Regions from separate parts of the Homo sapiens genome. Here region 2 is linked to region 1. Evidence: fine-mapped expression QTL. A gene starts in region 1. The other region holds a variant in brackets. All regions are shown on one strand. Distances are from middle to middle.

What was found. PIP is the estimated chance that this variant, and not a neighbour inherited with it, causes the effect.
Region 2: its variant is the best candidate, but not a certain one, in a credible set for the expression of MGC4859 in nasal epithelium (TOPMed, PIP 0.50).

Annotation. Positions count from the first base shown.
Region 1 is chr7:10,778,176-10,781,100 of GRCh38, reverse strand. It overlaps MGC4859 (a long non-coding RNA gene), which reads left to right and starts at 1,157. Exons shown (of 3, transcript NR_147499.1): 1 at 1,157-1,219.
Region 2 is chr7:10,460,817-10,463,741 of GRCh38, reverse strand. The region is part of intron 2 of MGC4859 (a long non-coding RNA gene); the gene reads left to right. Among named protein-coding and RNA genes, the nearest start is that of MGC4859, 320 kb to the left of the region's middle. The variant T/G (reference allele first, on the strand shown) is at 1,238.

The DNA of each region.
Region 1 (2,925 bases):
ATATCATAGTATCAGACAAACCTACTTTCCAAAATAGGCTCTCAGAGTTGTAAATTGTAATGTATATTCATTTTGATGGAGAGATTTATTAGAATAACAAATTTCAGGATTTTTAAATTGAAGAGAAAGATCTTTATCAATTATCATTTTTACCCTTCTTTTGGTAAACAAAGTTAAGGAAAATAGCATGATATTTCAAAGTATAATTTCACAAAACACATCAAAGCAATACCTATTTTATAAAACATGAGGAAAAATGACAGTCTTTCCTTTCATCTAATTTTAGTTTGTCATATTCTTTTTTCAGGTTTTCTTTTTTCTTTTTTTAAAGATATTAAAATAATTTATTTCTGTCACAAAAGGTCTTTCTCAGACACATCCTCCACTAATGGTGACATGGGGACTGTCTGTTCCCAGTGTTTCTGGATGCATGAGAATGGTAGGGTAAGAGAGAGAACAAAGCCTCTTAGTCCCTTTCTTTCTGCTACAAACACCTTAGGGATGCGAGTCCGGGGTGAGAGGAGAGAGGGAAAACCGCGGCTGGCCTTGCATGTGCCTGACTCAGTGTGCATGCCCCTTGCTGCCCAAGTCCCTTGTTGTCCATGTGCCTTGCTGTCTGCCTTCTGTCCCCGCAGAGCTGTGCAAGGAGACATCGTGACTTCTTTCTGTGTTGCTGACTAGGAGTCAGCCACTAGGTCCGCAGATAAGTCCTCCCAGAGTTGAAGTGTGAGAGAGCGTGAGGAGAAGCCCGCGGCGCAGTCTATGGCCTCCTAGGGGGAAGGGCCTTGAGGTCCCTGTCCTTCTCCTAACAGGCGGCGACGCAGCCATGGCCTTGCTGTCGTGGGAGTCCCAGACAGGGTAGGAAGGAGGGCCATAGAAAGGAGGAGGGCCGAGTGAACATGGAGTTTTGAAGGGGGAAACCATTTGTGGTATTTGAGTCCCGGAGGCATATGAAACCGCCCACAGAAGACACATTCCAAAGTCTTCAGTGGGAACCTGGGAGAGGGCAGAGGACTGCGCGGCGCTGGATGGGGTAGAGCGAGGAGGGTCGAGGAGGGGCGCCACAGCCCACAGAGCAGGCACCGACCTCACTGCGCATGTGCCCTGGGCGTCTTCCCGTCGGCCCCTTTGCCCACGTGGTGAACGCGGCGGAGCTGTGAGGGTGTGAGGGTCGCGCTCCTGCTGTCTGGACTTTTTCTGTCCTACTGAGACACGGCCGGTAGGTCCGCAGGCCAGTCTTCCCAGGGGTTGAAGTGTGAGTGAGTGTGAGGAGGAGCCAGCGGCCGTCTGGAGCATGGGGCAGCGTGGTCCGTGGCCTCAGAGGCCGATGGGTCTCAAGGTGATCGTCCTTCTCCTCGTGAGGTGGCACCGCCATGGGCCTTGTTGTAGTGGGGTCAGAACGAGGGAAGAAGGTGGGCCGCGTAGTTGAGAAGGCTCAGGTGAAGATGGGGTAAGTGCTGGGGGTGCTGGAGCAGGTATCGGAGTCCGTGGAACCCTCGACAGAGGACAGATTCTGGACTCCTCCGTGGCGACCCAGGAAGGAGCGGGGTGGGCATTAAGGAAGGGAACTGGAAACGCTGCAGGTTGGTGATCGCGGCCCTGAGGTCTGTAGAGTGCCCCGCAGAGGTGTCCAGTGAGGAGTGCCCAGCAATGTGTGGCAACTTCTCAACTTCACCGTGGAGGTTTGAATGAGCGGGGCTCTGCGTTCCAACGAAACTTGATTTTATGGGGGAAATGGGCCTAGCAAATGGGTGTGTGATAAAAGCCTTGATCACTGCAGTTTTAATTCTCTGGCTGTATTTTCCTAAATGTCTCCACGGAGGAGAGTTCAGTTCTGAAACCAAACCTTATCAGAAATATCCTGTATCTTTTGCCAGGAGCCTTAAGACATATCTAGTCAAAAAATGTCATTGTTACAAGAAAAAAGTATTTAAATGGTATAAGTGATCTAAGATATAGGTCCCAGAAAAGTTCAGTTCATAAGTCCTGAATTTCATTATTGGTTGAAACTTCTGGACAGATTATCTAAGGATTTCTTTGATTTTCTCTTGTACAGCTCTGAATTACAGCCTTCACTCCCAGAAATTTGTCTCCTAACCTCCTCCATATTGTGAGCTGTAGGGAGATCTGTATTTTATAAATGTTTGGGTCTCCCACAATTCCTGACTCAGAATAATAATAAATAATGAATGCTTATAGTATAGTTATATGACCATATTATATATCATAAAATACCTTTTTTTCCCCTAGGAATGAAAGGTCAGGTTTCAGTGGCAGTGAAGGTAATAGGCAACTACCCAGATAAAGTAAATAGAAAATAATTTATAAAGTGTAAAAACCAGATTGTTGAGTTATCTCAATTATTTATTTATTTTTTATTATACTTTAAGTTCTAGGGTACATGTGCACAACGTGCAGGTTTGTTACACATCTATGCATGTGCCATATTGGTGTGCCGCACCCATTAACTCGTCATTTACATTAGGTGTATCTCCTAATGCTTTCCCTCCCCCTTTCCCCCACCCCACAACAGGCCCCAGTGTGTGATGTTCCCCTTCCTGTGTCCAAGTGTTCTCATTGTTCAATTCCCACCTATGAGTGAGAACATATGGTGTTTGGTTTTTTGTTCTTGCGATAGTTTGCTGAGAATAATGGTTTCCAGCTTCATCCATGTCCCTACAAAGGACATGAACTCATCCTTTTTTATGGCCTCATAGTATTCCATGGTGTATATGTGCCACATTTTCTTAATTCAGTCTATCATTGATGGACATTTGGGTTGGTTCCAAGTCTTTGCTATTGTGAATAGTGCCGCAATAAACATATGTGTGCATGTGCCTTTATAGCAGCATGATTTATAATCCTTTGGGTATATACCCAGTAATGGGATGGCTGGGTCAAATGGTACTTCTAGTTCTAGATCCT
Region 2 (2,925 bases), 320 kb after region 1:
CCTATAATGACTAAAACACAAGAGTGCTGAGAGAAGTACTGGCAGATACAACTTGAACCTGATTATGGTCCTTGCCTGCTAGCATTTTTCACTTTATCCTAAAGGCAACTGGAAGTTTCTGATGGATTTTAAGTGCAAAGATGAGGCTTTGTTTCACTAAGCATGTTTTGAGACTCATTAATGTTGTTCCTTATATCACTAATTAGTTTCTTTTTATTGCTGAATAGTGTTCCATTATATGAGTATATTATTCTTTGTCAATTGATATTTGCATTGCTTCACCATTTTTACTATCATAAATAACCCTACTGTGAGCATTCTTGTATAAAATGATTTTGTGGACATATGTTTTCATTATTTCAGTAAATACCCAGGAATGGAATTGCTGCATTATAGGATAAGTAGATGTGTAACTTTATGAGAAATTTCTAAGTCATTTTACAAAGTGGCTTTACCATTTTACACTTTTATCAACAATACATGAAAGCTCCACATTTTTTCTAAAATGTGATGGTAGTGTCAGTATTTAATTTTACTAATTCTGGTGAATGTGTAGTGGTACCTTATGAGAGTTTCTATTTATATTTTATTGATATCTGATGATGCTGAACACATTTTAATGTGTTCATTGGCTGTTTGTACATATTATTTTGTGAAGTGTCTGGTCATGTCTTTTACTCATTTTCTTTATTATTACTAAAATATTTACTAGGTTTTATTTACTTGCAATAGGTATTATTTGTTTTAAATTTTAGTTTTTTAATTGGAAATTGTCAAATTATAGTTGTGTATATTTACAGGGTACAAAGCAATGTCATAATTTATGAATACAATGTAGAAAAATTAAATCAAGCTAATTAACACATTCACTTAAAATATTTATCTTTTTTGTGGTGATAATATTTGAAATTTACTCTCAGCAATTTTGAAATGTGGAATATATTATTAGTTATGATATCACGCTGTGTAATATATCTCAAAGTAAAAAAAAATACTTATTTTTCTGTCTAATGAAGTTTTTCTACCCTTTCACCGTCATCTCCTTATCCCTCTCATCCCCCTCACTCCGTAGTCTCTGATAACAAAAAATTTGCTCTGCTTCTTTGAGTTCAATTGTTTCAGATTCTACATGTAAGTGAGAACATGCAGTATAGTGTTTGTATTTCCGTGCCTGGCCTATGTCACTTCGCATAATGTTCTCCAATTCTAACCGTATTGTCACAAATGACAAAATTTT[T/G]TTCTTTTCTAAGGCTAAATGGTATTCCATTGCATGTATATATATGACATTTTCTTTTTCCATTCATTTGTTGATGAATACTTAGGTTGATCCCACAACTTAGCTGTTGTAAATAGTGCTGCAATAAATATGGGTGTGCAAATATCTCTTCAACATACTAATTTTAAGTCTTTTGCATAAATACTCAGAAATGAAAGTGCTAGATTATATGGTCATTCTATTTTTAGTGTTTTTGTGGAGCTTCCTTATAATTTTCCATAATGGCTGTCCAGTCTACATTGTTTAGTGATGGGGATATGTTATGACAAATGTATTGGTAGATGATTCTGTCATTGTGTAGACATCACAGAGTGTACTTACAAAAACCTCGATAGTACAGCCGACTTCACACTTGGCTATGTGGTACAGCCTATTGTTCCTAGCTATAAACCAATACAGAATATTACTGTACTGAATACTGTGGACAATTGTAACACAGTGGAAAGTGTTTGTGTATCTAAATAATCTAAACAGCAATGATACAGTAAACATATGGTATATAAGATAAAAAACAGGATACATCTACATAGGGCACTTACCATAAATTTAGTTTGCAGGACTGAAAGTTGCTCTGGATGTCAGTGAGTGATGAGAGAGTGTGAAGGTTTAGAACATTACTGTCCACTGCTGTACACTTTATACACACTCACTTATGCAAATCTAAATTTATATTAAAATTTTCTTTCTTCAATAATACCTTAACAGCTTGCTATAAATTTTTACTGTATAAACTTTTAATTTTGATCATCCTTTTGACTGCTTTGTAATGACATGGTTCAAAACACAAATCGTACAGCTGTACAAAAATATTTCTATCTTCATAATCTTATTCTGCAAGCTTTTATCTATTTTAAATTTATTGTATTTTTAAAAATTTACTTTCTAAATGTTTTTGTTAAAAACTAAGACATAAACACACACACATTAGGTTAATCCTCCACATGGTTAGGATTATTAAGATGTCACTAGGCGATTGGAATTTTTCAGCTTCATTATAATCATACAGGAACCTTACCACATATGCTCTCTGTAGTTGACTGAAACGTCGGCATGCAGTGCACGACTGTGCTAATTTATGTTCCCAACAGTGTAAAAGGGTTCACTTTTCTCCATGTCCTCACTTATACTTATCTGTCTTTTTGATAACAGCCATTCTGACGGGTGTGAGGTGATATCTTACTGTGCTTTTCATTTGCATTTCCCTAATGATTAACAATTTTGAACATTTTTTCATATATCTGTTGGCCATATCTTCTTTTGAAAAGTCTATTCATATCCTTTTCTCATTTTTAAATTAGAATAATTATTTTCTTTCTACAGAGTAATTTGAGTTTTTAAATATATTTTGAATATTAACCCCTCAACAAACATCTGGCTTGCAAATATTTTCTCCCAATCCATAGGCTGTCTCTTCACTCTGTTGTTTTCCCTGTTGTGCAGAAACTTTTTATTTGAGATTTTATTTTTATGTAATCCCATTTGTCTATTTTTACTTTTTTTTTTTTTGTCTGCGCTTTGGGGGTCAAATCTAAGAAAGTCATAACTTATTTGTTTTTCCTTATGTTCTTTTAGTAGTCTCACAGTTTCAGGTCTTACGTTTAAGTCTAATCCATTTTGAGTTGATTTTTGTATATGGTGTGAGATAAGAG